2 separate regions of the Homo sapiens genome follow, and region 1 is linked to region 2. Evidence: fine-mapped expression QTL. A gene starts in region 2. The other region holds a variant in brackets. All regions are shown on one strand. Distances are from middle to middle.

Region 1 (8,333 bases), 32 kb after region 2:
GGCTGTGCATGGGTCTGGGCTGAAGGAACTTTGATGGCTTCCATAGCAACCTGGCAGAGCAGCCTCTGGGACAAACATCAGGAGGCAGAAGATGAAGGGGGTGTCTGGATGGGCCTGGGCACCCCAGGGTGGCCACTGATGCCAGACCTGGCCTGGATGCAGGCTCCTGATTCTCTGAGCCCAGGAGAGGGTGGCTGAAGACCTGGGTTTTGAGGCAGGGGTCTCTCCTCCTTCCCCTAGTTGCCCTAACTCACCAACTCTGATGGAGAACTGGCTGCAAAGAGCATGACGCCCTCTTGCTTAGCCTCAGCTATAGAGAGCTGAGGGATCCTGGATCCAATGCTGTGCCTGATCCCAATCCCCACTCCCTCAGGCCATCCCGGACCTGCTTAGTTAGGAGAATTCTATGAACGACTGTCGCAGTGTACAGGTGCCCTTCGGAAGGTGGGCTTTTGGGGGTGAGTTGTTTATAATCCTGGCTAAGACGCAGCATCTGGGATGCGTGGGCCTTCAATCCGTCGCAGGATCACCCTGAGAACATGCTCTGTGAGGTCAGGAAGACTCTGGGATTCTGCAGGAGCAGAAACCAATTGCAGAAGCCGCCTCCCGCAGAACCGGCCACCCTGCTGGGGCTCCCCCGTCACCTCATTCTCGCATCCAAGTCTGCAGCCCGTGTGTCTGATGGTAAAGCCTAGGTTCCCATGGGGATCTCGGCAGCAAGGATCTTGGAAGGGCAGAGTCGAGCTCCCTGGCAGACTCCGCAGAAGCCAGAGGGGGCCGATGTTGAGGAAGCGAATTATCCATGTCCGCCACAGCTGTGTGGTCTGCACCCCAGATACAGCAGGGTGCGTCTCACATGGGCCTGGCCTCACGATGGGCAGCGTCCAGCCTCTCCAGCCTCATTCCACCCAGGCTCTGCCCTCATGCACAGTTTCTGAACGTGGGCACCCTCATTCACTGCTCCCTACCAAAGAGGACTCTACATTTTTCCCCGTTGCCAACAGAAAGGATATCTTTAATGTGCTCCTGTGTCTCTCCTTTGCCTGGAAGAGCCTCCTAACTGTCTGTCTGACATCCCCAAAGATCTGTCAATGCACAGCTCAGATGCCTCTCTCCTGATCAGCCTTTTCCAAGATGACTTCTCTAGGAAAGAAGCATCAATTACTTTTTGGCTCCTAAGCATCACGGTTTATTACACAATTGGGTCAAATATTAATATGCTAATAATAAATAGGTATGTTACCCCTCTGTTGATACAACAAGGGATTTTTTAGAAATTCTATACTGTATATGTGATTTGAATTAATTTGGTAGCACCAATGATTGAACTCAGCCCTGCCTACTCTAAGTTGGAATATTTCAATTCACTCTTACTTTCTTTTTATTGTATTTAAGGTGTGCAACATGATGCTTCGGTATACACTTACATAGTAAAGTGATGACTACAGGTGGTAAACAAATTAATATTTCCATCACTTTTCATAGTTGCTTCTTTTATGCAACTAAAACCCACTTCCTTAGCAAATTTTCCATATGTGACACATTATTAACCCCAGTTCTCCTGCTGTACCCTGGATCTCTAGATGTACCCAACCTGCAGCACCGCAACCTTCCGCCTTTAACCCACACCCTGGTCTCGCCGAGCCTCTGGTCCTCCGGCTCTCGTAGCGTTTGGTGCTGCTGGTTTCTTCACTGATTCCTGGAGGTTATCAGCTACGTGTTGAACACCTCTTCTGCTAGATTTTGGTAGATGCAGAAAGCCTTTCTTTTTGTTCTTTCCCTTAAATAATATTCAGGAAAGTAGAAACACAAACAAACCACTATGAGGCAACATAATTTATGCTATGAAGGGAGTTTAAACAAGGTTCCCCAGATGCACAGAGACCAGAGCAGAAAGGCCTGCCTGGGTGTTCCGGGAAGGGTTCACAAGAGAGGCATCGCCGAAACGGAGGGTCTTTGCATCTGTGTAATTAACGCAGAGACAAGGAGCACTTACAGGGCTCCAAGCTCTGCGCAAAGCTTCCAGGCATACACAGTGTCCTCACGGGAAGGTTCAGCAACCCTCCAAGTGAGGGAAGTGAGTCTCTGTAAGAGGCGTGACCACTCAGCTGCTCAGTGACCCAGAGCTGGGCTTTATAAACTTGGAGGAGGGCACAGGGCGCAGAGGGAAACCCAGGCATTGTGGAGTCAGAGCCCATGCATGTGACTCCTGGTTCCGCTGTGTGCCGGCTGTGACATCACTGCATGCAAATTGCCTCACCTCTGCTCGCCAGCAGCCTCAGCTTTGAAATGGGAGTCACCATGGATAGAAGGTGAACGTGGACTTGTGCAGGGGATGCACGTCCAGTGACATGCGGTAAACACGAGCCTCGGCTGTGGTGGAGTGACAGCCCTCAGCCCGTCCCAGTGCACACAGGGCTCCATGCAGTCGTGCTGACCACCTGCGCTTGGTGAGAGGAGGGGCTGGGCACGCCCCTGGTGTGCCCCTTCTTGCATTTAGAATGAGCCCCTGTGCTGAGTGCCAGCCATGATCTGGTGAGTCACAGGCCTGTCCTCAAATATTCCACAGTCGAAGGTGAGAGATGTGCTGCAATGTCTCCCAGTGGCATTGGGCTGAGATGAGCTACAGCAGCTCGGAAAAGGCCCCGGTCAGGGTCAGCCATGCCGGGTGACAGGGCAGCAGGACTGGTCCCAAGTGTGTGTTGCTGGCGGGTGTCAGGCACGGCAGGTGAGGGACTGAGTAAAGGTGAACGCCGCAGGGCTCCTGGGCAACACCACGGTTCCTCCCGTAGTAAAACCTCCCACTTTCATGGGTGCTTCTCTGGTTTTCAGAAGCGGTCTAAGGGTAGATGGTAAACCTGTAAATGATGATGATTTGAATGAAGTGCATTGCTACATGTTAGAGCCAATGCACTTATTTTCAAAAACACAAGCCTAACTCTGTGTGGAAACACCTGGGGTCACCCGCTCACTCACTGTGGGACACCTGGGGTCACCCGCTCACTCACTGTGGGACACCTGGGGTCACCCGCTCACTCACTGTGGGACACCTGGGGTCATCCGCTCACTCACTGTGGGACACCTGGGGTCATCCGCTCACTCACTGTGGGACACCTGGGGTCACCCGCTCACTCACTGTGGGACACCTGGGGTTACCTGCTCACTCACTGTGGGACACCTGGCATCATCTGCTCACTCACTGTGGACTTTTCTAGAAACAACTGATTTCCAGGCATTGCCACCATGCAAGCTTGACTTTCTCATGTGTATTTGGCCTCAGCCCAGGCTTACCAGGGCTGCTGAGATGCTGCAGGGAGGAGCCGCAGTTCAGGTGGGAAGGAAGCTGCCGGGTGTGCACTGTGAGCAGTGAGAACTGGAAAAGGCTCCTGGTCAGAGGCCACCTCGGTGCCCATGGGTTCCCGCCTTGTGACAGAAAGAGCCCTAAAGGAGGGGCTGTGGCCAGGTGGTGTTCCTTATGATTCAGGTTAGTTATTATGCATTATTAGCAACCTGAACCACTTCACAAAAAAAATTTGGTACTTGAGAAAAAAAATGGCCATTTTAGAATGCAACTGGAAAAAAAATTCATGTCCGTTTACAAAGAAATAAGTTTGTCAGGTCTTGAACTGGTTATGAAGTGTTATCCTGAAATGCTGGTTTACAGCCATATTCATAACCATTTTTTCTTTGATTAAATATTTTTATTTAATGTCTTTTGAGAATGTCAGTGAATGGAAGGTCATTTTCTGAAAAACCAGCGAGAGACTCTCCACATGAAGACGGAAATCAATTTGCATCTCTCTGTGTGGTTGTAATGCTGGCATAGACAGGAATTAAATGCCCTTTCTTACTTTACTTCCTGAAGTAGAACTTAGCCTGGGACAGAAATTATTTAATGGGAAGCCTCAAACTGTGACACATTTAATTGATGTAGGGCAGGTAATAATAAGCTTCTCCATCACTGTGCACAAACTGTGACTTTTGGTTTCAAAATGCCTCCGTGCAAAGGAGTGAACCCCCAGGATGGGGTCCGGGGAGGAGGATGGGAGGAAGGGGTTTCCCGAGTGGAGGAGCCGGGCATCGTGGAA[T/G]AGGCACTTGGCAGGTGCAGGAAGCTCGTGCCTGGGTCATTCCAAGGTGCTCTGCTGAGTCTTTGTGTTTCTAGGTCTGGGAAGTATTTAATTATCCATTTCTTAAAAAGCGTATTTTCAAAGATGCTTATTAAAGGCTTTAAAGTAAGTGGCAGTGCTCATCGTCTGAACCTTCTGGAAGAGCCAAAGGGAGCAGGAAGCGGCCTCCCCAAGGCGCATGCAGCCGGCCTGTGTGTGGAGGATCAGAGCTGCTGAATCAAGGCTGGAGACCACAGCCACCCAGAGCACCTGCCATCCTGGCGGGGCCTGGCTGTCCTGCCCATGCCAAAGCCAAGGGGCGTTTGCTGTGGCTCCCTCTCAGCCTGGCACCCGGCCAGTGCCCACACCCTCGTGCCTCCTCCTTCTGCCACCCCTGCTGCCGCGCAGTCCCCAGGAGGGGAGCTGGGCCCTGGGGCTCTGAGCATCACCCTCCGTCCTCCCGATCATGGGCCATGTCATCAGGGCTCTTTTCTGCTGAGCTGTGCCCTGCATCTCTGCATTTTAGCCACCAACCTCTGCCCAGGACCCCAGGCTGGCAGCTAGGCTGGACGTCCCCACAGCTGCCCTTGGGGCCTCAGTCTTGTTCTTGCCTTTGAGGTTCCCTGGGCACATCTCCAGTCCCTGAGGGGTGACAGGCGCCCTGCACTGTTAGGGCCGGGCACTCACTGCCACTGGACCAGCCCCTGTGTCTGTCTCCTGCATCCCCTCCAGTGGCATCCATTGGCCCTACAACATCAGAGGGACTTGGCTCTCCAGGCTGCAGCAGCCATAATCCCACACCTCACTGGTGGCAGCAGCAGTGGTTATTTCGGGCTCATATTGCACTGGGCTGAGGTCTGCGATCTCACACACGTGGAAGGAGCGGTGCCATCCGAATGTGCTTGTGAGAATCGTGACAAAGCCAGGAAGGGCCTCTGCACAGGTGTGGGGTGCGTCGTCTTCTCAAGGCCGATGTCAACGGGAAGAGGCGTGCAGTCCTCTCATCCGGGGTCTGGTGCCCAGACGTGCCATCTTCCTCCTGCCTGTGTCTTCCTCCTGCCTGTGTCATCCTCTTCTGCAGGACGGGAAGACCCCGGAGGCACCGTCTTCCTGCCACCTGTGTCATCCTCTTCTGCAGGACGGGAAGATCCCAGCGCCATCTTCCCGCCACCTGTGTCATCCTCTTCTGCAGGATGGCAAGATCCCGGTGCTGTCTTCCCGCCACCTGTGTCATCCTCTTCTGCAGGACGGAAAGATCCTGGAGGCGCCATCTTCCCGCTGTCTGTGTCATCCTCTTCTGCAGGACAGGAAGATCCCGGCGCCGTCTTCCTGCCGCCTGTGTCATCCTCTTCTGCAGGACAGGAAGATCCTGGCATCTCACACGCCCCTGGCTTATAGGGCTCGGAGGCTACAGTGGGAGCTCAGGGCATGTTTGTTGAGTATTGGAGGTTTTTCAGTCAGGGAAGATATCAATTTAAAAATGAAGTCACACATTCCCCAAGAAGCATTGCTGAATTATATTGGTTTAGTCAACACAAAATACAAGTACACAGGAATAACCGAACCACAAAATGTCAGGCTGTGGAAGTCAGACGGCACCTAATATTAGGATAAATAAAGCAGGTGGAGAGTGAGTGTCCTCTACACTAATGGAGACATTTTAAATTAACTTTGACCAGCAAGTTTTATTATTTTTCCTGTTAAGATCTAGGCAGGCACATGCAATTTTTGCGGAGAAGAGACTCCAGTTTAGGAGCCTGCCATGAGCAGTCATGCAGGTGGCCCGTGGGGAAGTGGCTGACGTCTGTGTCTGCACCATCCTGCGGGGTGTGGATGCCTTGCACACCTGCACCCTAGCTGCACCCCTGCCTGCACCGTGCAGACACGAAGTGGCTGCTCCAGAATGTTTTCTGGATGAGGACATGAGTGAGCAGGACCTGGGGCTGCAGAAAGACTGCTTCTATAGGCTTTATTATTTATTTATTTTTATTTATTTTTGAGACAGTGGCAGGATCTCGGCTCGCTGCAACCTCCACCTCCCAGGTTCAAGCAATTCGCCTACCTCAGTCTCCCAAGTAGCTGGGATGACAGGCATCCACCACCACGCCCAGGTAATTTTTGTACTTTTTTTTAGTAGAGATGGGGTTTCACTACGTTGGCCAGACTGGTCTCAAACTTTCATGCTATTCTGAGCATTATGACTAAATCTTGCACTGTCCTGCTCCATCCTGACCAGGACCGGGTCATCTCTTTGCCCAGCAGATCCATGCTGTGCACACCACATGCCTGTTAGTGGCTTAGTAGCTCTCCTGGGTCAGCAGGTCCACTGATGCAGATCACAAGTGCCTGAGTTCAGGCAGCCCTTATTTTGCTTACCAAGGGCTCCAGATCAGAAGAGCAGTGAGGCTGGCAGCTTGTAGATGGCAAAGAGAAGCTGTAAAGTGCTCCCTTTAAGTGAAAAGGTGAAAGTTCTCTACTTAAGAAGGAAGGAAAAAATTGTATGCTGAGGTTGCTAATATCTACCATAAGAACAAATCTTCTATCTCTGAAATTGCATAGAAAGAAAAAGAAATTCCTGCTAGTTTTGCTGTTGCACCTCAAACTGCAAAAGTTTTAACCACAGGAAGAACACAGGAGGTCGGCACCACACAATTTTCAACAACCAGATCTCCTGAGAATTCACTCACCCTCGTGAGAACAGCAAGGGGGAAATCCGCCCCCATGATCCAGTTACCTCCCACCAGGTCCCACCTCCAGGGGCAAATCCACCCCCATGATCCAGTCGCCTCCCACCAGGTCCCACCTCCAGCACTGGGGACTACAATTCAACATGAGATTCGGGTGGGGACACAAGTCCAAACCATATCAGGTATTGAATGTGTGGGTGGAAGACTTAAGGATAAACAAGTTCTGACTGACGGCCGTCGGGTTTAGTGCCATCCACAGTCCCAGACACCCACCGGGTCTGGAATGTGCCCCGTGAGGATGAGTGGGAGCTACTACATTTCATTTGTCCACAAGGAAACTGGAGCTGAAAGAAGCTGCAGAGTTCCCGAGTCCACACACCCCGCAGGCAGCGCGTTTACGTCAGAGCTCCCGAGTCCACGCACCTCGCAGGCAGCGCGTTTACCTCAGAGCTCCCGAGTCCACCGACCTCGCAGGCAGCGCGTTTACGTCAGAGCGCCCGAGTCCACGCACCTCGCAGGCAGCGCGTTTACCTCAGAGCTCCCGAGTCCACCGACCTCGCAGGCAGCGCGTTTACGTGAGAGCTCCCGAGTCCACGCACCTCGCAGGCAGCGCGTTTACGTGAGAGCTCCCGAGTCCACGCACCTCGCAGGCAGCGCGTTTACGTCAGAGCGCCCGAGTCCACGCATCTCGCAGGCAGCGCGTTTACCTCAGAGCTCCCGAGTCCACGCACCTCGCAGGCAGCGCGTTTACGTGAGAGCTCCCGAGTCCACGCACCTCGCAGGCAGCGCGTTTACATCAGAGCTCCCGAGTCCACGGACCTCGCAGGCAGCGCGTTTACGTCAGAGCTCCCGAGTCCACGCACCTCGCAGGCAGCGCGTTTACCTCAGAGCTCCCGAGTCCACCGACCTCGCAGGCAGCGCGTTTACGTCAGAGCGCCCGAGTCCACGCACCTCGCAGGCAGCGCGTTTACCTCAGAGCTCCCGAGTCCACCGACCTCGCAGGCAGCGCGTTTACGTGAGAGCTCCCGAGTCCACACACCTCGCAGGCAGCGCGTTTACATCAGAGCTCCCGAGTCCACGGACCTCGCAGGCAGCGCGTTTAGGTCAGAGCGCCCGAGTCCACGCACCTCGCAGGCAGCGCGTTTACGTCAGAGCGCCCGAGTCCACGGACCTCGCAGGCAGCGCGTTTATGTCAGAGCGCCCGAGTCCACGCACCTCGCAGGCAGCGCGTTTACCTCAGAGCTCCCGAGTCCACCGACCTCGCAGGCAGCGCGTTTACGTGAGAGCTCCCGAGTCCACACACCTCGCAGGCAGCGCGTTTACATCAGAGCTCCCGAGTCCACGCACCTCGCAGGCAGCGCGTTTACGTCAGAGCGCCCGAGTCCACGGACCTCGCAGGCAGCGCGTTTACGTCAGAGCTCCCGAGTCCACGCACCTCGCAGGCAGTACGTTTACCTCAGAGCTCCCGAGTCCACCGACCTCGCAGGCAGCGCGTTTACGTCAGAGCTCCCGAGTCCACGCACCTCGCAGGCAGTGTATT
Region 2 (8,333 bases):
TATATTTTTAATGTCTCCAGTTCTTTTACTTCCTTTAGCAAATGACATTTTACCTTGTATCTTAGTCCATTAAGGCTGCTACAGCAGAATCACACAGCCTGGGTGGATTCTAAACCACAGAGACCTGTCTCACAGCTCCGGAGGCTGGAAGTCTGAGACCAAGGTGCTTGCCGATGCGGTGTCTGCAGGGCCCTCTTCCCTTCCAGAAGACACCATCTGGCTGTGTCTTCACCTGGGGAAAGGGGCAGGGCAGCTCTCAGGGCCTCTTCTATGGGAGAACTCATCCTATTCAGGAGGGTTTCACCCTCATGCCTTCCCAAAGACCAACTGATTTCAGTTTTCCCAAATGATTTCAACGTTTCAGATTTGAGGGGACAGACATTCAGTCTACTGCACCTTGCATTTGGGGACTCTGTGTCCATAAAGACTCCAAATTGTCCAAACTGAATTTAACAATCAGGTAATGATCATCAGAATAACTCCAGCTAGTTCTGACCCTGAAGGGAAGAGATATTATTTGTTCAAAGTCACATTTCTTTACTCTCCTTTCCTAACGTAATCTACTATTTAAACAGAATTATAACATTACATATTAAGTCTATCCTAGTGGGAGGATAATGACACTTATTGAGGTGTGGCCATTACATTTTAAAATACTTATCACTTTATAAGCTTACATTGAAAAGACAAGTAAGTATTTTTTTTCAGGTGTACTGATGAATTAAAAAACAGTGACAAAAAGCAAATATCTGCTGTGCATCAACCATGGGACATTGTTTTAGGGCCCTAGAGAGGATGGGGGTGCAAACAGGATCAGGGCATCATCCTGACCAGGCAAAGAGCTCAGCATCAATGGGGCAAATATCTATCTACAAGAGTTCTTGCGATCTACGGAAAATGGCAGTAAGGATGTGATTAGCAAAACCAAAGTACCAAGGAAGAAGAATAAAGGGAGGAACTCAGTATAAGCAGATACGCCACATGGAGAATGAGCCATCTGACCTGACATTTCAGGAGGTGACATCACCAGGTGGAAAAGAAAGATGTATGTCCCTAGATGCAAAAGCTCGAGAGAGCCTTGCTGGTGACTAAGACCCTGGGTGCCGAGGCTTGAGAAGAGCAGTGTCTGGATCTGGTCTGAGAATTGCAAACAGTGTGCTGTGGCCTACAGATGAGGTCCCGAAGCTTTGATCTCTGTGAATTCCTTTTTATCCCATTCTACTTGGAACAACAATACAATATCAATCTTCCTCCGCTGCCCCTGGGTGTGCTTCTCCCAGCCAACAACCTTCCAGAGATTGCCACCAATTACAGGAAAAAAATCCGTACTACTCCAGCAGGAATTTAAAGCCTCCTTCTTTCTCTGTCCCCCACCTCTGTGGTCTGCCTTCCACTCCTCTCCAGTAGAGGTGTGCTGGATCCACACACGCCTCCCTTATGCCTATTACAACATTGCTCCTGCCGGGAAACGTTTCCCAAATTCAACCCCATTAAAGGGAGGAGAGGCAGGAGGCTGAGGACTCTACATTTATCCAACAAAGAGAAAATGGATCTCTTAATTAGACAGTGGCAGTTGGCAAGGATTGGCACCTGTTTATTTTTGACCAAGAAGAATCAATCATAGGCTCTAGAGCAGCAGGAGACTTCTGAGGTGATCTCATTGAGGGACTATGTGGCATTTGAATCTTCCTTATAAAAGAGTAAAGAGAACACTGCTCTACTATAATTTTAACCCCCTTTGAGGGAATTTGTTGCCTTGCAAGGCAATGTATCTACTTGCTATATAGTTTTCTAATGCAAATCAATAAAGTGACTCCACTATAAACATTTGCAAAGTTTGTATAGTCTCATAATAGTAAAATAAAATAGTAAAATTTACATGATTTATTTATTTCTGAATTTCTGATCACATAACTGTATCTTAAAACAGGGCCAGCTTAGCACTATCATACATCAATGAATTTCAATGTAGGCAAATTGCCGTAAATAGAATTGACATATTTGAAGTGGACAGATTAACGTTGGAGCAGGACTATGACATTTTCTGTCTTATGAGGTAGTCAGCTCTTTTGACTATTGTTTGAATCAGTGATTTAGAAAGGATTTCACCATTTCCTGTGACTTACTTTAATAATATGCGCTATGTGCATTCATTCTAATTAATGTAGATAATTAATAATTAATTATACTAATTACTAATTAATAATCCTTTCTTATTCAGAAGTTCATTTCCAGAAGGACCTAGTGGGCATTGAAAGTGGGCCAGATGAGTATTAAACTTGACCCACCCATGCTTTGGAGACTTTGATAAGTCTGTGCTTTAATTAAATGGTAAAGTTGGGGTTATGAAGCTCAGGTAATTAAAAATGTATTTTTACTTAAATTGGGATATATGGGAATTTAATGATCTATACAGGAAATTATGGAGTATACATAATATTTGGAACGTGATTCAAAATGCTTTAGCTCATAAAGTACTAATATGATTTCATGATAATCTCGAATATAGACTAGATAAATTCCTGTTTGAGATAAGATACAGGACAGTGCATTCTTAAGCAGGTCCACACTAGTTAGAAAGAATATGGCTGAAGAAATACATTTTCTATATGGCTGTTATAGGAAAGATTCTCCTATTCCTATTAAGAACATAGCAAAATTAACTCCAGATACATGGGCTCTGTTAATTAAAATTGATTAGTTATGGAAATGCAGCTTAACTAATACTGTTTAGTTAAAATCTGCTCCCGGGAACCTTCCTGCAATTCTTATCTCCTGCTCTTAGAGCCCCTCAGACCTCTGGGCCGATCCCCTCTGCACCAGCCCTGCCGTGAGGGCGGGAGAAGCAAAGGACCCCCAGCTCTCAGATCCACCCATCCTGCACTTAGAGCACTCCACCAACCATTTTCTCTGATTAGAACATGTTTTTGTCTTGCCCTCCATCCAGAGGTGCCCTCAGCTCCTGAGAGGGGGTTCCTGGCCAACAGCTAAGAGGGAAGGAGCTCTGCTGGCCTGGGTCCTCTGCCGGCTTCTGCTGCAATGCCAGTGACATGCAGAGGTCACCTGCGCCAGACACACCCCAGGTAACTCCTCAGGTTACTCCCCAGGAGCTACAGCATGTGCCAGCGCAGGAGCAGGCAGAGTCTGTGGCATTATACCCAGCTGGTGGGTGTAGATGATAGATGAGACAGACCAGTCACCACAGCCCACAGATGTAGAGAGACAGACCAGTCAGCCCCCATGCCGGCATATGTGGACTGGACAGACATCACCTCTGGCCAGCACATGCAGAAGAGACAGGTCGTAACCCCCAGCCGGCAGGTGCAGAAGGGACAGGTCATAATCCCAGCCAGCAGGTGCAGAAAGGATAGGCATCACCCCCGACCTGGCAGGTACAGAAGGGACAGGTCATAATCCCCAGCCAGCAGGTGCAGAAGGGACAGGTCATAATCCTTGTCTGGCAGGTACAGAAAGGACAGGTCATAATCCCTGGCTGGCAGGTGCAGAAGGGACAGGCGTCACCCCCACCAGCAGGTGCAGAGGTGCCGTTGCAGCAGTTGGATGTGAGGCCAAGAAGCAGAAGCTAAGGGAGGGGGTCTGGGGCATCCCTGGAGCTCAGAAGCCAAGGCCCGTGCCTGCCCCAGGGCTGGTGCCATACATAGTTCCAGGTACTGGGGACGGAGGGTAGCCGATGGGGCCCTGAGCAGGACGTGCCTCTTCTGGACTTGACCACAGAACCCAAGCATGGTAAGTGTGCCTTATGGATGCCATCAGGTTGGCGCAATTCCACAGGAAATGGACCATCAGCCCTTCCTTGGCCCTTGGACTCTCCTTCCCGCCCCCACTGTGGGGGAACACTGCCTGTTCCCTGTGCTCCTGGGGGAAGGGTCTGGGCTCTGGGGTCAACCCTGCTCATGCCAGGCCTGGGTGGAGGCAGCTCCGCGGTGTGCTCTCTTAGTGCTCCCCCCTGTGCTACCTCGCCTGTGCTTCCCCTGTTCCTCTCATGCTCTCCCCAGTGCTCCCTTTGTGTTTCCTCTATGCCCCCTTCTATGCTCCCTCCCATGCTCCCCTCCATTCTCTCCTCTTGTGCTCCCTTTTGTGCTTCCCTCCCCTTCTCGCTCCATGTTCCCCACCCTCCACACGTGGCTCCCTCTTTGCTCTGCAATCTGAGCTGTGAGGGCCCAGGTGCTGCTCAGCTGCCAGGCCCGTGGCCCTCCCATCCTTTTCCTAACCCTCCTCTACTCCTTCCTGGGAGCCCCCACACCAGTGCTGCCAGGGAGGCCTAGACAGCCATGCCCGCTGTCGCACTTTCATAGTGGGCCAGAAACACTCACAAAAATTTATACTTCCACCTTCCTGTGCTTCCTTGTTTTAATGAGAATGACGCACCATCATTCAAGGTTTAGTAAGCAGCGAAATACGTCTCAGCTGTGCGAGGCTCATGTAAATCACCTTTAAGAAGTGAATGAAAGTGTTACATGTGCATGACAACTAAAGCTTTGTGAGACAGCCAGAGCCTGTTTCCCCCATAAAGATGTTTACACCTGACATGTGTGTGAGAATAGTGCCAGGAAGTTGAGCTCCCTGCTGAGGGTGCGAAGGACAGGAAAAACAGAAACAGAGAAAAAGAAAAGGGGAGTCTGTGTGAGAGAGAATAGACTGAGGGCAGAAACCAAATCAGCTGCCTGGTATAAAAATGTGCTTTGAGATAAGATAAATTATGGGATTTCATGTTAGTCTATATTAGCGTACATGAGGGATAAAATCTACTTCGTTATTAACTGATTTCGTTTAGTTTGCCTTAATTAGAAAAACTATTACAAATCACTATAAATGCAGAATTAACAGGTTGACGAGTGGCAACAAAATAATGAGTCCCATGGTGATAATTATGTAAAATATGTAAAATCAATTTTCTAATCATTGATTTACATAAAATAAAAACGTTAATTTGACTTTGGGTTGCCTGAAGATATTGGCAGCCACCTGAATCTAAATCTTTTCAAACATCTCCAAGATAACTATGCAGATGAGCATGAAGAACAACTTTACGTAGAACTCTTCCCTTGGCAAGCCTGGGAGAGAGAGGTGGTGTGTTTCAATCACCTGCAGGTGAAATAATCAACATACAACAGCAGATCGACTACCTTTGATCCCAAAGGTAACACAGTGGTGGACACTGAGGAAAGTCCAGGCACATGGACAGGAGGGACATGGAGAAAAGGAGCAGGAGCTGCCGTTAAGCAAAACCCACTTTGTGGTGGTAAAACTGCAGAGAAGCCTCCCAGGGGCTGGCAGCTCCAGGGAAGGGAGACATGCATCTCCAGGACCCACGTGGCATGCCCAGAGCTGCTTTGCCTCTGAAGAAAAGGGTAAATCAGAAGGAAGAAGGACCCTTAGGAAGCAGAGGAGTGAAGAAATAAAGAGAAGCAAGAGAGGAAAATGTGGGGTTCTGCAAGACCAAAGAGGAGCAGAAACCAGATGACACACCACTTTCCCCCAGGACAGCAGCGAGAAACAGAATGCTGCTGCACTGACAGAAGAGAGAGCTCTTGAACAAGGAATCCTATCCGCTGCCTCTAACGGTCAGAAGAAATAAGTAAACAAAAGCAGCCCAGCGTTATAAAAAGCTATTAGTAGAAGAAAACACAAAATGAGAATCAAGCCATTTCAGGTGATAAAAATGCACTGCCAAAAAACAACCGTGACAGAGAAGGGAACTGAGCACAATACTGCACCTTAAATTAAATATCCTTACCAAGCAGTTGGTTGAACAAGGAAAAGGACTTTTTAGTAGGAAATATAAAAATGACCAAAACCAAGAATGGTTGGATTGAGTGACAATTTGAGACATTCAAGAAAGGCAAGAAAACAACAAAAATTAAAATTAAAATGATTTATGAGAGTTCTCCAGTGAAACAGAATCCCTGGAAGGAAGAGTGAGCTCACGTAATTATGGGGCTGGCAAGTCCACAGTTTGCAGGTTGGGCTGGTGGCCAGAGACCCAGGAGGGCCAACGCTCCAGCTGGAGTCTGAAGCAGGTGGGCTGCAGAGTTCTCTCAGAGCCAGGGAGTGGGGGTCTTTAGGCCTTTAGGGGTGCAAGGCCTGGTGCAACCCCCATGTTATGGAATCTGCTTTTTACTTAAAGTCCACCAAAGTAAATTAATCTCAGGCACTGACACCCTCATGGAAACACCCAGAATAATGTTTGACCAAAAACCTGGGCACCCCATAGCCCAGGCAAGTTGACACATAAAATGAACTATCAAAATGAGTTATATTAAAAAAAGGGTCAGAGTGACATTGGTGACATGCAAGAGAGCCAACAAAGAGCCAGCATATGTCTAACTGGAGTCCTGAACAAACCTAGGGCCAGAGCTAGAGAAACCAGAGTTAGATAACTTTTCCAGAAACAAAAGAAGCATTGACGCTACATGTCAGAAGGGCCTACTGAGACCTGCAGGAACTGGCCTGGCATATTTAACCAAGACATAGCCAGATAAAACTATTGAACTTTAAAGATAATGAAACACAATCCTAAGGGCCTGAAGATAAAATATCACATTCCTCATCCAGGCCAAAGAACAAAGTAGGCATCTGACTTCTCAAGAGTGACCTGCAGAGTGAGGCCACAGTGGGGCTGCATCCCAGAAACCCCCTAATGGAGGTGTGAGCACAGGATCCTATGCCCAGCCTCTTGTCTTCTGCCCAATTTTGTAGTTGTTTACATCAGAACGTTAAGCCTGCCTCAGTTACTTCATCATGGCTGGAAAGATAATCAACATCTACTGCTTTTTTTAAATTAGAAAAACACAAAACAATGTTTTAGCATCTTCTTGTAAAATAATTTTTTTAGTGAAATTTTAATTGAACAAATGAATAAATGAACAATCAGGCCCTTCCTTTTTTTTTTTTTTTTGTTTGTGTTTTGAGACACAGTCTTGCTCTGTCACCCAGCTAGAGTGCAGTGGCATGATCTCAGCTCATTGCAACCTCTGCTTCCCCAGGTTCAAGCGATTCTCCTGCTTCAGCCTCCTGAGTAGTTGGGATTACAGATGCCCGCCACCGCACCCAGGTAATTTTTGCATTTTTAGTAGAGATGGGGTTTCACCATCTTGGCCAGACTGGTCTCGAACTCCTGACCTCATGATCCACCTGCCTCGGTGTGAGCCACCGCACCTGGCCAGGCCCTTCCTTTTATAATAATATATACAACTCATGGGTTTTAAACCTTTCACTTTACTCTAGTCACAGATGGACTCTGAGAGAGAAAATAGCACCCCTGTCCAAACATCACATGCCTGGCGGAGGAACGCAGCCTGGCCTGTGCAGCCGAATGTTGGAGAGTGCACCTTCCTCTCTTATTTTGTTTTATTTCCAGGGAAAGGGAAAGGAAGACATGCAGGTAATTTATCAACTAAATTACAGGCTGACTGATAATAAAGCTCCCCGCCCCACAAAAAAAGGAAATGATTGTGGGGTTTTAGTGGGTTTTCAATGTTCTTTCTTTACTCTCCACCATGAAAATCTATCATTAAAATACATTATTTAGTTTTTGCTTTAAAAGTTTAGATAATTCTACCAGTGAAAATGAACTTTCTAAAAATTCTACATAATTTGTCACTGGGTAGAAGTCCACAAATCTACCAACTTCCCACTGATTTTAGTCTTTATTGTATGATTTCCTTGTGCTGCCTACCAGAATTTCTTGCAGCCAGTGGGTAACTCAAGTCATACAATGTTAGAATAATAAAGGATTTTAGACTTTTTCCAAAATCTTCAGTTGTATATTTTCATCACCAAATAAAGTGTAGTATCCAAAGCAAAATTAAAGTAACATATTCCTTATCTTCTATCTAGAGCCAATACATATGGACTTCATTTATTGGATCATTGAATATGTTTTCTTTAAATATCAAGAAGCAATAACATCACAACTATTAACCTACCTATATGGTTTACATTCTAAATGAAATGTCAGGTTATGTATGTGAATAGAGACATATGAGGATCAATATTCTCCCATTTAGACTTTCAATCATGAATTGCAAAAGCATTTCTACTATGAATCATAGAAATATTTATTGCATGATAATAAAAGATTTGTATCTAAATACAATTTCATCAGAAAAGCAATGTAAAGATATTTTTGACTCAAGTTTTCATTTTAGGCTTTAATGAAATGCATGTATCAAGATATTATACATTTTATATAAACACTTTGATGATGATATTTGGCTTTCAAAGAAAGGTACTTGTGGACACATGAACAAAGTTCAACCAGTAATTTAATATGAAAACAGGAATGTTAGTTATTATGTAATTAAATACCA

Alleles and levels. Alleles are on the strand shown, and positions count from the first base shown. SD is a standard deviation of normalised expression in the study named.
In carriers of allele G in region 1, the expression in prefrontal cortex of the gene that starts at base 3,516 in region 2 tends to be higher than with T alone (moderate effect, 0.65 SD a copy in CommonMind).

What was found. PIP is the estimated chance that this variant, and not a neighbour inherited with it, causes the effect. A credible set is the group of variants that fine-mapping cannot tell apart.
Region 1: its variant is the best candidate, but not a certain one, in a credible set for the expression of LINC01939 in prefrontal cortex (CommonMind, PIP 0.55).

What each region holds. Positions count from the first base shown.
Region 1 is chr2:868,232-876,564 of GRCh38, reverse strand. LINC01115 (long intergenic non-protein coding RNA 1115) reads left to right here and starts at 8,139. Exons shown (of 3, transcript NR_111963.1): 1 at 8,139-8,333. RefSeq lists an enhancer at 7,123-8,322. The variant T/G (reference allele first, on the strand shown) is at 4,089.
Region 2 is chr2:900,634-908,966 of GRCh38, reverse strand. LINC01939 (long intergenic non-protein coding RNA 1939) reads left to right here and starts at 3,516. Exons shown (of 4, transcript NR_110179.1): 1 at 3,516-3,747; 2 at 7,008-7,075; 3 at 7,249-7,405.